Homo sapiens: one gene and its partners. The protein of the gene in region 3 interacts with the protein of the main gene of each other region in a pairwise test. Each region holds a gene or a part of one and is shown on either strand. Other genes may lie near its edges.

Region 1 (9,445 bases), on a different chromosome or scaffold from region 3:
AGCGGAGACCCCTCACAGGTGTTGAGTATCACAGCCAGGTACCTGTTTGCCCCCTAGATATCCAAATGTTGAGTGTTACAGATGCACAGCCTAGGTTCTCATGTTGAGCTGGAGGACAGTTGCGTTTTGCCTTGACTGCTGCTAACCCTTTGTGTAAGCAGGGGCAAGGGGGCTGGGACCCTCTGGGAAGATACTTCTTTTGGTTTTGCCACTAGTAGAGAAGTGGACTGGAACTTTCCCAGCAGGGCCAATACACCACAAAATTCCAGGTGGCGCCATTCACATGGTGGCCATTATGAATGGCACCACCTAGGGTTGTGCAGTCTACAGACTGAACAGCTGTGCGTGACCTTTGTGCTTCCCAGGATGAATGAGGTCTCTTCTGAACACTGGGCAGTGCTTAATACAGTTTTGACACTCAGCATAATGCAAAACGGTAAGAGAAATCTGTAAAGGGAAGATGGCTAAATCATTCAGAAAGTAAATTTACAGCTTTGTGTTTTCCCCAGATTTATTTACCAAGTGGGCAGCTGCATGTTATCAAACAGACAGGAAGTAGAAATGTCAAGTGTATGGGCTTTGCAGTGCTGTTCCTACTGCGACATTTGAGCCAAGAACCATGGGACTTGCCTCTGTGGACTGGCATGTGGCAGATGAGCTGGCCCTTTGTGTGTGCTCTGCGTGTGATCTTGGGGATACATTAATTGTCACATATGCTCATGTCCTGTGGGCCCCCAACTTTTCTTGGCTGGGCTGGGCTGGTGAAGATTAGGAAAACTGCACAATCTGACTGGTGCTTTTTGAAGCAATGCCAGAAAGACCCTCATTGAAGAGTGAATTAAAGTCAAGTTGGTTGATTGTTTGTCGAACAAGCACATATTGAATGCCTACAATGTGCAGAGCTCTTACAGCCCTCTCAGAGATGCCCCACTTGGCGATTGGGAGTGTGTGCCATTTAGAGTTTAGCATTACTGGCTTAGCTGGGGTTCTGCCTTTTAACAGTGGTGCAAATTAGTTATTCATCCTTCTCCCAACCTGTATTAGTTTGTTTTCTGTTGTGATAAAGGGATACCCAAGACTGGGTAAGGTTCAAGTGATTCTCCTTTTTTTTTTTTTGAGACGGAGTCTAGCTCTGTCGCCCAGGCTGGAGTGCAGTGGTGCAATCTCGCTCACTGCAAGCTCTGCCTCCCGGGTTCATGCCATTCTCTTGCCTCAGCCTCCCGAGTAGCTGGGACTACAGGCGTCCGCCACCACGCCCGGCTAATTTTTTGTATTTTTTTTAGTAGAGATGGGGTTTCACCGTGTTAGCTAGGATGGTCTCGATGTCCTGACCTCGTGATCCACCCGCCTCAGCCTCCCAAAATGCTGGGATTACAGACGTGAGCCACCGTGCCCGCCCAGTTTCAAGTGATTCTCATGCCTCAGCCTCCCAAGTAGCTGGGACTGCAAGTGCATGCCACCACGTCAGGTTAATTTTTGTACTTTTAATAGAGATGGGGTTTCGCCATGTCGGCCGGGTTGGTCTCGAACCCCTGACCTCAAGTGATCCACCCACCTCAGCCTCCCAAAGTCCTGGGATTACAGGCATGAGCCACCATGCCTAGCTCCTGATAACACTTTTGAAGAACATCAGATCAGTCTCATCTCATGCACAGGATGCGTCTGAAGACCTCACAGCATTCAAAACTTGCATTTTTCAAGACGAGTTTTCCCATAGGCTTTAATGTCAAGTTGGGGGGTATGCAGCCTCGGAAGGCATAAATCTACAGCCATTATGGCTTAGGGGCATGTTATTAGCAGCATCAGTCTCAAAACGACGTCACCAGCTGTTTTTCTACCTCCTTTCCCATCCCTCCAGCATCCTTACCTAGCTTTATGAGTATTGGGGGGGATCTTAAAGCCACCCCAGTTGTAATAATATCAACTAAGCTGGGCATGGAGGCATGCATCTATAGTCCCAGCTACTCAAGAGGCTGAGGGCGGGAGGATCACTTTGAGCCCAGGAGTTCGAGTCCAGCCTGGGCAACATAGTGAGACCCTGTTTCTTAAAAAAAAAAACAATGAATTGATCGATCAATCAATAAAAAATGTTTCAAGATGTATTGAGCAGCTGTTTACTACGCAACCAAGCACTGTTCTAAGCATTTTATTTATTTTTGAGACAGGGTCTCTTGCTGTGTCACCCAGGCTGGAGTACAGTGGCACAATCATAGCCCACTGCAGCCTCAAACTCCTGGGCTCAAGCAGTCCTCCCGCCTTAGCCTCCCAAGTAACTATGACTACAAACACAGACCACCATGCCCAGCTAATTTAAAAAATTTTTTTGTAGAAACAGAGTTCTGCCATGTTGCCCAGGCTGATCTCAAACTTTCGAGCTCAAGTGATCCTCCTGCCTTAGCTTCCCAAAGTTTACATTCTTCACAAAGTTTACAGCTGTGGGCCACCATGCCCAGCCAACTTTCAGTAGAGATGGGTCCTGCTGTGTTGCCCAGGCTGGTCTCAAACTCCTGGCCTCAAGGGATCCTCCTGCCTTGGCCTCCCAAAATGCTGGGATTATATGTGTGAGCCACCATGCTCGGCCTCTACGCATTTTATATGTGTTAACTCATTCAGTGTTTACAACCACCGTATAATGTGGGTACTGTCAATATTTCCACTTTACAGATGGGGAAATGGAGGTACGGGAGGGGAAAGGGACTTGCCCCAGCACCCAGCCAGGGTTCAGCCCCAGCGGTTCTCTCAATGACTACCCTGTATCGTCTTCCTTCTCCATCCACCCCTACATCCTCCTTCCCAATTTCTCAGCAGTTCTTTATTGGGAGCACATTGAGTCACGGCTGCTGCTAATTTATAGCTATTTCTTTACATCAAACTTCTGTTCAGAAATTGTTGATTTTCAGGGCCATTTCTGCCGCGCAAAGAACCCTTGAGTGACATTGTTATAGGATATTTTTAAAAGATCTTAAATTATAGACACAGTGACTGTTGAAATACCAGGACACTTGTAACCAAAAGCAGAAGTTCGGATGCCTATAAAACAACCAGACGGTTCACTCCAGGCTGGAGATTGACAGGTCTCGGGCTTCACTGAGCCAAAGTGGCGCCCCCACGTGGCGACAGCTTAACTTTACACAGCTCTCCACCCAACCCCAGCTTTGAAATTATGCAAGTTCTTGACAGATTGTTCTAAATTGGGGAATATTTCTTCATATCATTTCACATTTTGTGCAAAAAGCAAGACGTTGTTGAGAGTTTAAGGACACCACACTGTCAAATTTGCATTATTCCATGTTGCATAAAATGAGTCTGAGAGCGGTTTCATCGTGGGTCTTAACCCCCAAGGGACAGAGATGCCAGTCCCCGGGGATTCCTGGACAGCTACTGAGACCTCTTCCCTTCCTATAGGATGGCCAGCCGGAGCAGTGACAAGGATGGTGACTCTGTCCACACGGCCAGCGAAGTCCCGCTGACCCCACGGACCAATTCCCCGGATGGAAGACGCTCGTCCTCAGACACATCCAAGTCTACATACAGCCTGACGCGGAGGATTTCGAGTAAGTATCTCTGCTTTACCTTTCTGGGGGCCCTGGCTGGCTTTCCCAGACACTCTCCCACGGAGAGTCATGAAGGGCAGTGTTATTGCTGGGGGAGGGCGGCAGAGTGGGATGACAGTCCAGGAGACAGGGCGAGAGAGAGATAATGACGGTGTGACAGAGGAGGGCATCACACCTGATTGCTGCTGAGTTTAATCAAAAGCAATCATTTTGATTGATTTTTGCTTTATTAATTTTAAGTTTGATTGAATTGGCTGAATTGATTAACATTGTCAGTGTATATCATTTCAGATTCTGAAAGATGAGTGTGGCTATATTATATAGCAGGGTTTGTCAATTCTGGTGACTTTGGGAGCTAGGCGGGTTGCATCAGTGGCCAAGTGCAGAGGTTGCATAGAGATAAACATTGCCTGAGTGCAGTGACAAATGGCAGCTGCCGCTCTGTCTGGAGAGTTACTAGGGCAGGGTGGGGACTTCGGTCAATTGAAAAGCAAATGCCCCATTGAAAGGGGGCCAGGGTGTCTGCTACTCAGCTCTGGCCAATGGTAGCTGTATGGGATTGGGGGCTCCGTATTGTCTGATCTTTGTAAAGAGATATTGGCAATCTGGGTTTTTTTATGTGAAACATTCTTACTTTCAAGCCTAAACAAAATGTATGTGTGGCCATCAAATTTGACCACCCAATTTGTCCACTCTGTTGTGTGGCGTATGTGTTTGACCAAACAGCATGATTTGGGTGAGGAGGAAAAAGGAGGACAAACACCCAGAGGCTCCCAACCTCCTTCTGCTCCACAAAAGTATCTCTGCTCTGTGTGAACCGATGTCTGAAATTCACCAGACAGAGGGAAAAGCTTCAAATGCATGAAACAAATCCATTCAGGTGGAGATCATTGGTGTCCAACCTTTCCTGGGGATAGAGGGAAAAGAAAAAAGTAGAAAAAAAAAGAGTTCAAGGGCATGAAATAGTGAAACAGAGGGAGCACTGGATTTCTTTAGGCCTCAGTCTTCCCATTTGTAAAATGAGAGGGCTGGTCTAGAGCTGCGCTGTCTGGTATAACAATCACTAGACACACGTAGCTGTTGAGCACGTAAATGGTGTGAGACTGAATCTTACTGATGTTCTGTAAGTGCAAAATACATACTGGACTTTCAGGACAGTGAGGAAAAAAAAAAAAAAAGTCTGGGCGCGGTGGCTCATGCCTGTAATCCCAGCACTTTGGGAGGCCGAGGCGGGAGGATCACCTGAGGTCAGGACTTCGAGACCAGCCTGGCTAACATGGTGAAACCCCATCTCTACTAAAAATACAAAATTAGACGGGCATGGTAGCGCATGCCTGTAATCCCAGCTACCTGGGAGGCTGAGGCAGGAGAATCGGTTGAACCCGGGAGGTGGAGGTTGCAGTGAGCCGAGATTGCACCACTACACTCCAGCTCAGGCAACAAAAATGAAACTCTGTCTCAAAAAAAAAAAAAAAAAGAGAGAGAGGATTTAAAGTATCTCACTAAAATATTTTTATATTGGTTCCATGTTGAAATGAGTATACATTGGATATAGTGGGTTAAATAAAATAAAATATTAAAATTAATTTTGCAGGCTGGGCGCGGTGGCTCACGCCTGTAATCCCAGCACTTTGGGAGGCCGAGGCAGGCAGATAGCTTGAGGCCAGGAGTTCAAGACCATCCTGGCCAACATGATGAAATTCCATCTCTATTAAAAATGCAAAAATGGGCCAGGTGTGGTGGTATACAACTGTAGTCCCAGCTACTTGAGAGGCTGAGCCATGAGATTCACTTGCACCTGGAAGGTGGAGGTTGCAGTGAGCCGAGATCCGCCACTGCACTCCAGCCTGGACGATAGAGCAAGACTCTGTCTCAAAATAAATAAATAAAATTAAATGAATTTTGCCCTTTTATTTGCATATTTTAAAAGTCGTGGCTGCCAGAACATTTTAAGTTACATGTGTGGCTTGCATTTCTGGCTTGCGTTATCTTTCTATGGACAGTGTGGGCCTAGGTAATTTCTAAGTCTCATGCCCAGCTCTGAACACAGGTTATCTCCATTTAGCATACATCTATCAGAGTACCTCCCATGCCTCTGGCAAATGTCTCATAAAGACAACTGTTTGGGCAATTAGCAAGAATGCCATGAGCTCATTGCTAGAAGAGAGGGATGTGCAAAGGTTGGAATAATGAACTTGGGATCAATGCATTCTGCTGGTTCATGGAAGGGAGAGAGGCGGCCCGTAAGCGGTGAGGTTTGAATATGAACCTTGAAGAAGTACAGTCGTTCCCATTTATTGGTCTGTGCCTACGGGCACATTCTGTGCCATGCTCTTTTCATGCCCTGGCTCAGTGAATCTTCACCACATTCTTTGAGGTAGGTGCCGTTATTGACTCTATTTTACTGATGGGAAAACAGAGTCCCAGAGAGTCAAAAGAATATGCCCGGAGTCACATGGCTCACTGGTAATGAGTACACGAGTAGTGAGTAAGTGGCTGAGATGGAATTCCACCCAGGCACTCTGGTCCCAGAGCTCACTCTCTTAAAGTGGAGACATCGTAGGATAATGGTTAGAGCCAGACTCTGGGGTCAGCTAGACCAGCCTGACCCCTGGCTCCTACACTTGCAAGTGTGTGACCTTCAGAAAGTTACTTAAAGCTTCTGTTTCCTCGTCTATAAAGTGGGGATAATAGTAATTATCTAATAATTCAAGGGGATGTGAAGATTGTGATTGCACATATGCGATGATGTAGTGTACACAGTCCATTAGAGCAGTGCCTGGCACTTAGCTGCTGTGATGATGGCAAGGTGTCAATAGTGCCACCAAACTATCTGTCACAGAATCAGTGAGTATTTCAGAGTGTGGAGAAAGATGGCAAAGGTCATTCTGAAGCAGAGTAAACAATGCAAGAATCTGCTTACCTGCAAAGTGGCCCAGGTCTGCCCCGTATGTGGCTGTCTTCATTGTTATTTCTGGTGGCTCTCAGGTCTTGAGTCAAGACGTCCCAGCTCTCCACTCATCGATATTAAACCCATCGAGTTTGGCGTTCTCAGCGCCAAGAAGGAGCCCATCCAACCTTCGGTGCTCAGACGGACCTATAACCCCGACGACTATTTCAGGAAGTTCGAACCCCACCTGTACTCCCTCGACTCCAACAGCGACGATGTGGACTCTCTGACAGACGAGGAGATCCTGTCCAAGTACCAGCTGGGCATGCTGCACTTCAGCACTCAGTACGACCTGCTGCACAACCACCTCACCGTGCGCGTGATCGAGGCCAGGGACCTGCCACCTCCCATCTCCCACGATGGCTCGCGCCAGGACATGGCGCACTCCAACCCCTACGTCAAGATCTGTCTCCTGCCAGACCAGAAGAACTCAAAGCAGACCGGGGTCAAACGCAAGACCCAGAAGCCCGTGTTTGAGGAGCGCTACACCTTCGAGATCCCCTTCCTGGAGGCCCAGAGGAGGACCCTGCTCCTGACCGTGGTGGATTTTGATAAGTTCTCCCGCCACTGTGTCATTGGGAAAGTTTCTGTGCCTTTGTGTGAAGTTGACCTGGTCAAGGGCGGGCACTGGTGGAAGGCGCTGATTCCCAGTTCTCAGGTAAGGGATGGGTTTGTGGTGTTTCCTCCTGGGAGCTTTTTTAAAAAGTGATTATTTTTATTTTATTTTACTGTTTAAAAGGCTTTTTTGGATTTTTAAAACTTTTTATTTTGAAATAATTTTTGACTCACAAGAGGTTGCAAAAATAGCAGAGAGTTCCTGTGTCCTCTTGATCCAGCATGATAGCATCTTACGCAACCAGGAAATAGATGTTGGTAACTAACCTAGAGCTTACTCAGATTTCAGTAGTTTTTTTTTTTTTTTGAGACGCTCTGTCACCCAGGCTGGAGCGCCGTGGCGTGATCTTGGCTCACTGCAAACTCCACCTCCCAGGTTCACGCCATTCTCCTGCCTCAGCCTCCTGAGTAGCTGGGACTATAGGCGCCCGCCACCACGCCCTGCTAATTTTTTTGTATTTTTTTTTTTTTTAGTAGAGATGAGGTTTTCCGTGTTATCCAGGATGGTCTCGATCTCCTGACCTCAAGATTTCACTACTTTTTACATGCATCACTCATGTGTGTGTCTTTCTGTGAAAATTTATCACATGTATAGATTCCTGTAACCACCACCACTCTGGAAGCCTTTTTTAAATCATCGATGCTGAGTTATTTAATAAGGAGAATGATTGCACAGGGTATAAAGCTATCAATCATTTTGACTTTCAGAAATTGATTTTTTTGGGGAAAAAGTGAAGGCTGGAAAACAGGATGATGCATGGATGTTTTTCAGGCCAACTGTTAGATTGGCTTCCTTCCCCCTGTCCAGCCCAGGGAAATGTGGTTGGCTGCTCGGGAAGCCACCCACGGACCAGGCTGTGTCTCCAGTCGGCTGTTGTGCATTCCTGCATATTAGAGGGTAACTGTCTACCCATTGTAGGTAGAAGGATGTGGGGAGCCCAAGGAAAGGAAAAGACCCAGCCACTCCTTCCTCCTTCCCTCCCTTCCCGCTTCTCTCTTCACTCCCTCCCTCCCTTCCTTCCCTGCTACCCTCTTCCCTCCCTTTCTCCCTCCTTCCCCTCCTTCCTCCCTCCCCTCCTCCCCTCTTCCCTTCCTTCTCTCCCTGTCCTGTGGGATGGCTGTTGTAGGAACAGGGACGGGAGATGGAGAAACAGGGGAGGGGGCTTTGGCCACCATGAGGTCAATAAGAGCTGCCTTCCAGGCCAGGCGCAGTGGCTTACGCCTGTAATCCCAGCACTTTGGGAGGCTGAGGCAGGAGAATCACTTGAGTCTAGGCGTTCAAGACCAGCCTGGGCAACACAGTGAGACCCCGTCTCTACAAAAAACAATTTAAAAATTAGCTAGGCATGGTAGTGCACATCTGTAATTCTAGCTACTTGGGAGGCTGAGGCAGGAGGATCTCTTGAGCCCAGAGTTTGAGGCTGCAGTGAGCTATGATCGAGCCACTGCACTCACTCCAGCTCACTCCAGCCTGGTTGACAGAGTGAGACCCTGTCTCTTTAAAAAAAAAAAAAAGTTGCCTTTCCATGGGGAGCCATTTGGTGACGTGCAGAGAAAATGGCCTTGGGTCCAAGCTGCAACCTTCCTCCCAGTGCCTAGCTGTTGCTGGGCCCCTGTGCTCCCTCACCTCACTTCAGGTGAAGTGGAGGTAGTAACACCACCTCGCAGCGAGGGCCTGGCGGGTGGCGAGCACTCCACAGTGGCAGGCCCAGTTGTCAGGAGACGACGTCTTCTATTGTGAACCCATTCAGAGTGAGCCTGTAATGTGTCGCCTTCCAGTGCACTAAGCGGTAATCACACCTGGTGAATATCTAATTGGGCAGACAAGAGGCGGGGAGTGTTCCCGTTCACTCCTGATGCTGAGCCTTCTTGCGGTAGAGGAGCTGGCGTCTCCTCAGCTGAGTTAATCTCGGGGCTGCCATCTCCTTTCCATTTGAAGAGGGACAGCCGGGCCTGTTTCAGGTCACTGCGGGAGCAGGTTTCTCCCAGACAAGGGCTGGCTCCTCACCCTTGATAGAGCTGCAGGCCGTGCCTTAGTTTCATGGGGACCTTTCAGTGCCTCTATGAATTAAAAGTATTCATGTGTATAGGGCTGAGTGCAATGGCTCACACCTGTAATCCCAGCACTTTGGGAGGTTGAGGTGGGAGGATGGCTTGAGCCCAACAGTTCGAGACCAGCCTGGGCAACATAGTGACACCCTATTTCTACAAAACATTAAAAAAAAAAAAATTAGCCAGGCATGGTGGCATGTGCCTGTAGTCCCAGCTACTCGGGAGGCTGAGGCAGGAGGATTGCTCGAGCCCGGGAGTTTGAGGCTGCAGTGAG
Region 2 (6,040 bases), on a different chromosome or scaffold from region 3:
CCTTTTTATATTGCAGGGTTATTGGCTATAATTATTCCACCTCGGCTTTGTCCTAATTTCTCTTTACTGGTTATATAAATCCTAACTTTCCTTTGAAATTGACTTCAAAGGTTTCCTTCTGTCAAGACCAAGTTATTCTTTTGAAACTAAACAGGGTGCTTTTTTTCTTTAGCTGCTGCTTATGCCTTCATATTGATTCCTTGAAGTCTTTATAAGTTTTATTATTGGTGTCTTAAAAAAAATACTTTGCTTTTTAAAGTAAAAGTGTTTCTAAGCTACGTGTGGACAATGAGGATTAGTATTCTGTCTTTGAAGCTTGATCCTCAGACCTTTAATGTGAAGATTTACTTTTTTGCATTGTTATTTCAGGGTTAACCCTTAATTCTAAACACTTAGATCTGAGATAAGATTTTCTAAAAGGGCTGCTAAAAGTTGTGTTTCTTATTTTCGGTATGGTTCATGGAACATTCTATGCCTCCTATTGTTGTGTTGGAATGGTTGGGAAGGAAGGAGGAAGAATAAGCTTTAACAAATACCTCCAAACATAATTTATTTCCTTCCACAGGGTTTCTGATCTCTAACTTGGCTGTGATCATTGTGATGGAGCAAGAAAAAAAACTGTTGGTCTCAGATTCTAACAGCTTTATGGAGAGGGAGAGTTTGAAAAGCCCTTTCACAGGTGAGGGATCAAGACGATGATCTGAATCCTTAGGAAATTTGATGTAGAAAGAACAGGACACTAGAATGAGACAAACCTTAATTTAATTCCTTGTTCTGTCACTTATAAGCTGTGTTAATTATTTCAGCCTCATTGTTCTCATCTTTAAGAAAATGAATAATATCTATTTCACATATATTTTAGAATTAGTGAGATACCGTATCCAAAGCTACTGTTCTTAATAAATAGTGGCTATTGTTATTTCTATAGCATTTGCTCAGATTTTAGCAAAGCTATTGTCTAGTTTTTACCTGAGATGGTATCCTGTTCAATTTAACTTCTATTCACATCAATCCTGTTTTTTCTCTTAAGTCTTCTAGAACAAAACCTAATGCATTTATTTTTAGATTGATGTTCCCTTTGCCAATAATGATTCAAATAATTCATTATTGTTGTTGCTAGGTACAAAAAAAAATCCACCTGCTTCTGGTAAACAGAGGAAAAGAAGTAAAACTGTCTTTAAAAACTTTTTTATATGAAATTATTTATGAGGTTTTACAGTGTTATTTCCTCTCTTCCACTGCAATTTAGAATTTACTTCTCTGGCAGAGATTTGGAATATGGTTAGAATATTTGTTTATTCTTGCAGGAGATACAAGTATGAATAATTTGGAAACTGTTCACCACAATAATTCTAAGGCAGATAAACTTAAAGAGAAACCTTCAGAATGGTCTAAAAGACATAGACCACAACATTATAAGCATGAGGATGCAAAAGAAATGCCACTGACATGGGTTCAAGATGAGATTTGGTGTCATGATTCCTATGAGAGTGATGGCAAGTCAGAGAATTGGGGAAATTTTATAGCTAAAGAGGAGGAAAAACCCAATCACCAGGAATGGGACTCAGGAGAACATACCAATGCCTGTGTCCAGCAGAATTCATCCTTTGTAGACAGACCCTATAAATGTTCCGAATGTTGGAAAAGCTTCAGTAATAGTTCTCATTTGCGTACTCACCAGAGGACCCACTCAGGAGAAAAGCCTTATAAATGCTCTGAGTGTGCAAAATGTTTTTGTAACAGTTCTCACCTGATTCAGCATCTAAGAATGCACACAGGAGAGAAGCCCTACCAGTGTGGTGAATGTGGGAAAAGCTTCAGCAATACCTCCCATCTTATTATCCATGAGAGAACTCACACGGGAGAGAAACCCTACAAATGTCCCGAGTGTGGGAAGAGATTCAGCAGCAGCTCTCACCTTATTCAGCATCACAGATCACATACAGGTGAAAAACCATATGAATGTTCTGTCTGCGGAAAAGGCTTCAGTCACAGCTATGTCCTAATAGAACATCAGAGGACTCACACTGGAGAAAAACCTTATAAGTGCCCTGATTGTGGGAAGAGTTTTAGTCAGAGTTCCAGCCTCATTCGCCACCAGCGGACACACACAGGTGAGAAGCCCTACAAATGTCTTGAGTGTGAAAAAAGCTTTGGTTGTAATTCTACTCTAATAAAACATCAGAGAATACATACAGGAGAAAAGCCTTATCAATGTCCAGAATGTGGGAAGAATTTTAGTCGTAGTTCAAACCTTATTACACACCAGAAAATGCACACAGGAGAGAAATCCTATGAAAGTTCTGAATATGAGGAAAGTTTGGGTCAGAACTGCAATGTGATAGAAGAATGCAGAATCCAGTTAGGAGAGAAACCATATAGATGTTGTGAATGTGGGAAGAGTTTTGGCCTTAGCTCCCATCTCATTAGACATCAGAGAACACATACAGGAGAAAAACCTTACAGATGTTCTGAGTGCTGGAAAACTTTCAGTCAGAGTTCCACCCTGGTGATTCACCAAAGGACACATACAGGAGAGAAACCTTATAAATGTCCTGATTGTGGTGAAAGCTTCAGTCAGAGCTTTAACCTTATCAGGCACCGGAGGACCCACATAGGGGAAAAACCTTACAAATGTACCAGCTGTGAGAAATGCTTCAGCAGAAGTGCCTACCTCAGTCAGCATCGGAAAATTCACGTAGAAAAGCCTTTTGAGTCTCCCGACGTTGGGGATTTTCCTCATGAATGGACTTGGAAAAACTGTTCAGGGGAAATGCCCTTCATCTCTTCATTTTCCGTCTCAAATTCATCTTCCTGAGTCCCAAAGCCTGGTTGGTGATGGTTTTTTCTTCCTTGTTGGACCATGACAATTTAGGTATTCTGTGATTGTTGTGCTATAAAGTTTCTTTGATGTGTTTGTCAAAACATTTGGAAAAAGTCAACCTCCCAGTTTAAAGGATGGGAAGACCCCAATCACCAGGTTATTGGATCTGTCCAGTGAGAGATTCATCCACCAAGGATGAAGAAAGGAGGACTTTTAAAAATTTAAGGTAAGATAGTAATAGCTTCAAAAGAACACATACAGAGTAATCCTGAGAGTAAGCAAAGGAACCATGAGAACCGAAGCTAGAATTGCTATTGAATTACTTTATTTTCTCTTCCCTTATTGGGTAGAGATACATCATTACTGGCCTCAGGGGTTTACCCAAAGAAAGGGTATTTTTGAGCAAATAATGTGATTTCCTGGCTATTTTGTTGGGGGCTTAAGATTTTTTTTTTTCAAATGCATTTTTAGTCACTAAAAATTAACTGTCGTACCATCTAGAACTATACTGTCCAGTACCATAGCCTCTAGCCGTATGTAGCTATTTGTATTAAGATTAATTGAAATTTTAAATCCAGTTCCTCAGTCACACTAGCCACTTTCTAAGTGCTCAGTAGCTCTGTGTGACCAGCGGCTACTGTATTGGATATTATAGAAGGTTCTTTCATTCAAGATCATCATTCTTGACAGACCCATAAATATTTCCTATAAAGACTGTAGAAGTGTGTTCTGGAGGGTTTGCTCTCCAAAAAGAATTGTAATATAGAGTAGAATTGGGATAGAGTATTGAAGACACTGGGTTTAGACATTGGATATTTTAATGATTGTGTGTTCTAATTCATGTGCTGCCAACTGAGTTATCTAGTGATATGACCTCACTGTCTTGACCAAAGCCAGAATAGAAGGCAGGATTCCTGAATTCTATCTTAAAATTTGCAATGAAGAGCCTTTTCCCTAAATTATCCCATTATGTAATTCTTGGTCAGCTCAAGAACTGGGTTCTTTTTCTAATAATTAACTCACTAAATCTGAGCCAGTGTCCAAGGACAGTTTGTCATTAAGGAGTACTGAGACTTCTTAGCTTTGGTACTGACAGTTTTCTTTTGCCTCTTGACATAATTGGTATATGGATCTGATAACTGAGGTCCCATCTTCCCTACTCATTCCTATGGGAATGATGCTTTGGAAATTATTAGATATATCCTATTCCCTTCCTCCCATTTTTTTCCTGCTAGTGCAAAAGGTAGATGAGTAGGAAGATTAGGACTCCTGAGTTGCCCATGATTTCATCTAATTTTTGGATTCAGAATGTATTTTATGAATAATATGCAGAGATGCATATTAGGAATGTGAAGCCAGAATGGGTCAGTTGTAGCTGCTGCAAAGTTCTGTAGCTGATGGTCATTTAATTGCATGGGGGTTATTTTATCTTTCATGATTGTGGTGCACCTGATGCTGGCGGGGTATTTGTGTGTTTTTGTATTGTTATTTGATTACAAAAATAAAGCAAAAACTAACAAATAAAGGTATTGGAGAATTTGGGGGAAATTTTCTGCTTTCAAAAAAGGGGGAAAACATTAGGCATTATTGGCTTTTTATTTTTATTTTTTTCTTATTCATTATTATTATTTTTTTTTTTGAGACGGAGTCTCACTCTGTCGCCCAGGCTGGAGTGCAGTAGTGCGATCTTGGCTCACTGCAAGCTCTGCCTCCCGGGTTCATGCCATTCTCCTGCCTCAGCCTCCCGAGTAGCTGGGACTACAGGTGCCTGCCACCACGCCTAGCTAATTTTTTGTGTTTTTAGTAGAGATGGGGTTTCACCGTGTTAGCCAGGATGGTCTCGATCTCCTGACCTCATGATCCAGCTGCCTTGGCCTCCCAAAGTGTTGGGATTACAGGCGTGAGCCACTGCGCCCGGCCCTTATTAATTGTTTAAGAGATAAGGTCTCACACTGTCACCCAGACTGTAGTGCACTAGCACCATCATAGCTGACTGCACCCTCAGACCCCTGGGCTCAAGGGATCTTCCCATCTCCGCCTCCTGAGTAGCTAGGACTACAAGCACATGCCACTGCAGCCAGCTAATTTTAAAATTTTTATAGAGACAGGGTCTTGCTATGTTGCCCAGGCTGGTCTTGAACTCCTGGCTTCAAGCAGTTCTCCTCCCTCAGCCTCCCAAGCTGCTGAGATTACAGGTGTGAGCCACCACACCTGGCCCATTATTGGCTTTTGTGTGACCTCACCTGAGTATTTTTCTGTCTTTGTATGTTATCTAGTATTGCCCAAATTTTCTTAAATTGTAATATTTCAGGACAAGTTTTTATGGTAACAGTTTGATTAATGCTTGATAACTAAGGAGTTATCAGCTTAGGAGTTGGCTGATAAACTTAGGAGTTTGCTGTTGAGGCTGAAATTCAGTTACAAGGCAGCAGTGGTTGGGGTGATACAAAATCAATGCTCTGTGGTAGGTAACCACTCTGAGCCTCAGTTCCCTCATCTGTAAAGCAGAAATAATGCCTACCTTACAGGGTTACCATAAACATTAAATGAATGTTTGCAAAGCATATAGCACAGTGCTTAAACATAGCAGGGTATCAATAAATGATACTTAGTTGCTGCTATTATTATTAATTGAAACAAACTGAAAAAAAATGTTATCCACATGTTTTAGAAATAGGAAGTAGTAGTACAGCCCCAAACTTATCTTACTTGTAGATTCTTTATGATCAACTTCAGGAATTTTAAGGGATAAAATATTGGAAAAGCACAGGACTATATTGTTTGCAGACTGTCTAAAACACTTTTATTCACTTTGTAAGCAGCTATAACAAAGAAACAGGAAATTTTACTAAATTTTCTTTTTATTCATGAAACAAAGGATTTGGTTTAACTTGGGAAAGAACAAAGTCGCAAGTTCAATTGAAGTTAATTTGCATCTGAAGAGATTAATAACAGGTACAATTTATGTCCTGTCACCATCACCTATACAATGTACTATGATGGCTGGCAATATATAAAACCTATTTCACAAACCTTGATGTCTACCAGAATAAAGATGTTCATATCTTAGATGGGTTAAGATGGGCTCCATTAGTAGAAAAATTTGGCAAAAATCCTTGTCTCTTTGGATTGAAAATGAGGAAAACAAGAGATTTGTACCTTATGATGGAGAAGATAACATAGTCAAACGTAATATGTGATACTTTTATCTCAGTT
Region 3 (5,185 bases):
TCTTGCATTAGTGAAATCTACTCTTCTTGATAATAATACCTTATGGTTCTTTGGCACTGTTGGTTTTAAAAATATTTTTGCATTCATTATCTCATTTAATCCTCACAACAGTGTTGTGAACTAAGCAGGGCACATATTATTTCTATTTTACAGGTATATTTCATTGACTTTTCAATGTTGGAAGGTGCCTTTAAGATCATGGAGCCCGACTCCCTCTTTTTCACTCGTGAAAAGTCTGGGTCTCAAAGAGGATAAGAGAGCTGTCTGGTTTCAAAGTGCCCATCAGTGACAAAATCAGGATGAGAATTCTTGTGACCTTTCAGTCTGTAATGCTGGTGCAACCCTCACTTAAGCAAATTGCCTATTCTACTTGACTTAGATCTGTCCTAACCACCTGCAGCCAGGAACACCTGAAGGAGCTGGTTAGAAATGCAGATTCCTGGGCCACACCCCAGTCTGAGTAAATCAGACTCACAATGGGAGGCTCAGAAATCTGCATTTAAAACTCACTGGAGTTATTTTTCTGTACTGGGATGTGTGAAAGCTACCAGCTCATTGGAGTTAAGCTCTGTGGATCTGAGCCCCGTTTTATGCTGTGGTCTTGAGGTCTATGGCCACCATCATGAATTCCTCAGGGTCCTTGACTGGCTTTATCACCACATGTTGAACGCTCATTGCTCAGTGATATGTCTGGGATGGGTTTTCTTTCTTTCCAAAATTATTAGTTAGACTCTGCTTTGAGTCTAGCATTGCATTAGAAGCTGGGGTGAATGTTTAAGGGGCTGCTAGCAGAAAAGACTCAAGGGTGGCTAAGAGTGAAGGATATGCCCAGATGGGCAAGAGAGAAGGCTGGGCTGACCAACGGCACCGCCATTTTGGACACAGCAATTTGGGTGGCTGTTTGGATGATTCATGCTGCTTCTCTGCTCATGCTAAGTGTGAGTACACATCTGTGGGTGGTGGCCCTTGAGAACAGTGTTTGTTCCTCCTTTAGGGTGACAGAATGTGCCAGAGCCCATGCTTAGTGCTTTTGTACATTGCCTTTTTTAATCCTAAAAATGTCTCTATGAGGCAAGGAGTAAATGCAATTATCCCAATTTGAAAATGTGGAAATTAAAGCTCAAATAACTTGCTCAAATTCTTGTTAATTGGTAAGTAGTGAGGCAAAGACTCAAAATATTTGGTTGACTCTAAAATGAATGCCTTTGACCACCATAATATATAACTGTTTCTTATTATTCACGGATTCCATATTTGTGAATTTGCCTACTTGCTAAAATGTGTATCCACCAAATCAATACTTGTAGCACTTTTATGGTAATTCTCAGACATGCACGGAGAGGTGAAAATTTGAGTTGTGTGAAGTTGAGTCCCCAGCCAAGGAGCCTTCTTGTTTCAGCTCTCAGGCTAGAAAATAGTGTCCATTGCGCAGTCTATCTAGTGCCACTTTTTTTGTTTTGCCTTCTTGTGCATTTTGTTGGTGATTTTGCTGTTAAAAATGGCTTCTGTACCATTCCAAGTCAAGTGCTGTCTAGTATTCCCAATCACAAGAAGGCTATGCTGTGCCACATGGAGAAAACACATGTGTTAGAGAAGTTTTGTTTGGGCATGCGTGACAGTGCTGCTGACGTGAATTTGATGTTAATGAATCAACAATACGCACTAAATGAGGTTATGTATTGCTTGGTTGACAAAACTGTGACCACAGGCTCACAGGAACATAGCCCTCTATTTCCTGTAGGAGCAATGGTTCTATATTTGCTAATTCAGTATTGGAACTGACTTCATAGAACAGAACTCACTGGAATGACAAGGATAGGCCACATTTCCTTGTGAGGACCCCAAGAAGCAAAAGCGCCCACTGTGGCCAGGCCAGACAATCAGACGGGGCTTATTTGGGGATGTCCTGGCCCCTTTGTCAGCCAGCCCCAAGTGTGTCAGTCCCATCGTTAACGCTGGGCTTTCCCATTCTCTCCCGCAGAGGGGCACAGCCGAACCCTTCCCGAGGCTCCACAACTTGTACAGCACCCCTCGCTGCGCGCAGCAGGCCGCCCTGCCCCGGCTGAGCCGCAGGATGGCGAGCCAGCACTCCTATCCACTGAACCGCTTCTCCTCCGTGCCTTTAGACCCCATGGAGCGCCCCATGTCCCAGGCCGACCTGGAGCTGGACTACAACCCGCCGCGGGTGCAGCTCAGCGACGAGATGTTCGTGTTCCAGGACGGGCGCTGGGTAAATGAGAACTGCCGCCTGCAGTCTCCCTACTTCTCCCCATCCGCCTCCTTCCACCACAAGCTGCACCACAAGAGGCTGGCCAAGGAGTGCATGCTGCAGGAGGAGAACAAGTCTCTGCGGGAGGAGAACAAGGCCCTGCGCGAGGAGAACCGGATGCTCAGCAAGGAGAACAAGATCCTACAGGTCTTCTGGGAGGAGCACAAGGCCTCGCTGGGCCGAGAGGAGAGCCGGGCCCCCTCGCCACTGCTGCACAAAGACAGCGCGTCCCTGGAGGTGGTGAAGAAGGACCACGTCGCCCTGCAGGTGCCCCGTGGCAAGGAGGACAGCACCCTGCAGCTCCTCCGGGAGGAGAATCGCGCGCTGCAGCAGCTGCTGGAGCAGAAACAGGCCTACTGGGCGCAGGCAGAGGACACGGCCGCCCCTGCCGAGGAAAGCAAGCCCGCCCCCTCACCCCACGAGGAGCCCTGCAGCCCCGGGCTGCTGCAGGACCAGGGCTCCGGCCTCTCCTCCCGCTTCGAGGAGCCCAAAGGGCCTCCGGCCCGGCAGGAGGACTCCAAGGAGCTGCGCGCCCTGCGGAAGATGGTCAGCAACATGTCCGGGCCCTCCGGGGAGGAGGAGGCCAAGGTGGGCCCGGGCCTGCCCGACGGCTGCCAGCCCCTGCAGCTGCTGAGAGAGATGAGGCAGGCGCTGCAGGCCCTGCTCAAGGAGAACCGGCTCCTGCAGGAGGAGAACAGGACCCTGCAGGTGCTACGGGCAGAGCACAGGGGCTTCCAGGAGGAGAACAAGGCCCTGTGGGAGAACAACAAGCTGAAGCTGCAGCAGAAGCTGGTCATTGACACCGTGACCGAGGTCACCGCGCGCATGGAAATGCTCATCGAGGAGCTCTACGCCTTCATGCCGGCCAGGAGCCAGGACCCCAAGAAGCCTAGCAGGGTCTGAGGCCTCGGCCTTGCACCGGGACGCCGAGTTTGGGACACCGAACACTGGGCAAAAGAGAATCCCCTGCCTTCCTTTGTCGTCCTCGCCTTCCCCAGCCAGTTCGTACCTATTGAAAAGCAGCGTTAGCAGCCTTCCTAAACTCAGAGTTTTAATAAAGGTGTGAGGAGGCTGGGGCCAGTTGACACCAGCATGCTGCCTTTTTCTTTCTTTCTTTCTTTCTTTCTTTTAATAAAAGATAGACAATATTTTAGAGCAGTTTTGGGTTCACAGCTAAACTGAGCAGAAAGTACAGGGAGTTCCCATAGACTCCCGTCCCACAAATGCATAATCTCCCGCATTATCACCATCCCTCCAGAGAGGTACACTAGTGACAGTCTTTGAACCTACATTGACACATAATTATTCCAAAGTCCGTAAGTTTGTATTAGGGTTTGCTGCTGGTGTTGTACATTCTGTGGGTTTGATCAAATGCATAGTGACATGTAGCCACCATTGTAGTACCATATAGAGTATTATAGAGTATATGTAGTACCATATAGAGTATTTTCATTGCGCTAAAAATCCTCTGTGCTCTGCCTGTTCATCCCTCCCTCCCCCTCCAGCCTCTGGCCACCACTGATCTTTTTTACAGTCTTCATAGTTTTGCTTTTTTCAGAATGTCATATAGTTGGAATCGCCAAGTGTGGAGCCTTTTCAGGTTGGCTTCTTTCACTTGGATATGCATTTAAGTTTCCTCCATGTCTTTTCATAGATTCAGAGACTGCTCATTTCTTTTTAGCACTGAATAAAATTCCATTGTCTGGATAGATCACAGTTTATCCTTTCATCTACTAAAGAACATCTTGGTTGCTCTCAAGACAATTATGAATCTGGCTTCTTCTCTCTTTTCCCCTGGTCTCTTCTTTACCTCTGCCTTCATTATTGTCTCTGTTTTTCTCCTTCAGTTCTTCCTTTTTTTCCTTAGTTTTTTCTTCCTCCTCTTCTCTTTCTCCTATCCTTCTTGCTCCCTCATCATCTCCAATTTCTGAGGCTATGGGGGTGGGGGTAGGTCTATGGGGGAAGAGATCACCCTAAGCCAGGGCTTTTCGATTGTGCCTTTATTATTCGGGGCTGGATAAGTCTGTGCTGGGGTCTGTCCTGTGCATTGCACAATGTTTACCAGCATCCCTGGCCTCTACCCACTCAATGCCAGTAACAGCCACCTGGCTCCCAGCTGTGACAACCAAGTATGTCTCCAGACATTGCTGAATGTCCCCTGGGGGACAAATTTCAACACTACTATAGGTTTCTCCAAGTACCATTGATTGAAACACAAGTCCTAGAAATACACTGAGAAAAATAAAGGTTTGCATGAGGAAATGCTGCTAGAATCCCCTCGGGCAGATTCATAATCATACTCTGACTTAAAGGTCCTAACAAGTCCTACAGTGAAGTAATCTGCTTATCCTGGATGAACCCCTAATTACCCAATTTGATGTGATCTTGAAATCTTTTTCTGTGTTTTCTCTGTTATTCACCCAGTTTGGGAAGGAGTGCCCTGTGCTCTCCCCAACCCCAGGCTCACTTCCCTACCCTCGGATTCCCTCTACTTACTCATGGTTCACACTTACCAGTTGGCTGCAAGAGATGAGGGTGGTTGGCTGTCAGGCTTACTGGGGGCAGGTGCAGAGGCTCAAGATTTGTTGTCCTGGGCTTCAATGCCCATTTCAAAGTTGGACATACTTTAGAGTCAAGAAATTGAAAGGTACTCCTAGGTGACTATAAAAGGGAGTTGGTCAGTGGTTCCTAAACTTTGCTGTATAGTGGAATCACCTGAGGGTCTTTGACAAGTATTGACACCTGGACCCCAGCTTAGACATTATGATTTAATTGATATTGGCTGTGACTGGGCAGTGGTGCATGTAAAAGCTCCCCAGGTGATTCCAATATGTAGCAAAGTTTAGGAATCACTGTAGTAGGATAGTTAAGCCTTCTGATTCTCAATGTAATGCTGCATTCACTAGTAATGAAAAT

Evidence for each region. The genes of interacting proteins can lie anywhere in the genome.
Region 1: the proteins of CBY2 (region 3) and SYT17 interact in binary tests that used the Homo sapiens proteins (3 or more experiments, as listed by UniProt).
Region 2: the proteins of CBY2 (region 3) and ZNF572 interact in binary tests that used the Homo sapiens proteins (3 or more experiments, as listed by UniProt).

What each region holds. Positions count from the first base shown.
Region 1 is NC_000016.10:19,176,986-19,186,430, forward strand, and holds part of SYT17 (synaptotagmin-17), read left to right. Parts: intron 1-3,405; coding exon 3,406-3,554; intron 3,555-3,762; exon of another isoform or gene 3,763-4,461; intron 4,462-6,477; exon of another isoform or gene 6,478-6,542; coding exon 6,543-7,162; intron 7,163-9,445. UniProt on the Homo sapiens protein: Plays a role in dendrite formation by melanocytes.
Region 2 is NC_000008.11:124,975,041-124,981,080, forward strand, and holds the end of ZNF572 (zinc finger protein 572), read left to right. Parts: intron 1-565; 5' UTR 566-600; coding exon 601-679; intron 680-1,307; coding exon 1,308-2,818; 3' UTR 2,819-4,349; downstream 4,350-6,040. UniProt on the Homo sapiens protein: May be involved in transcriptional regulation.
Region 3 is NC_000013.11:45,711,201-45,716,385, forward strand, and holds the end of CBY2 (protein chibby homolog 2), read left to right. Parts: intron 1-1,981; coding exon 1,982-3,172; 3' UTR 3,173-3,359; downstream 3,360-5,185.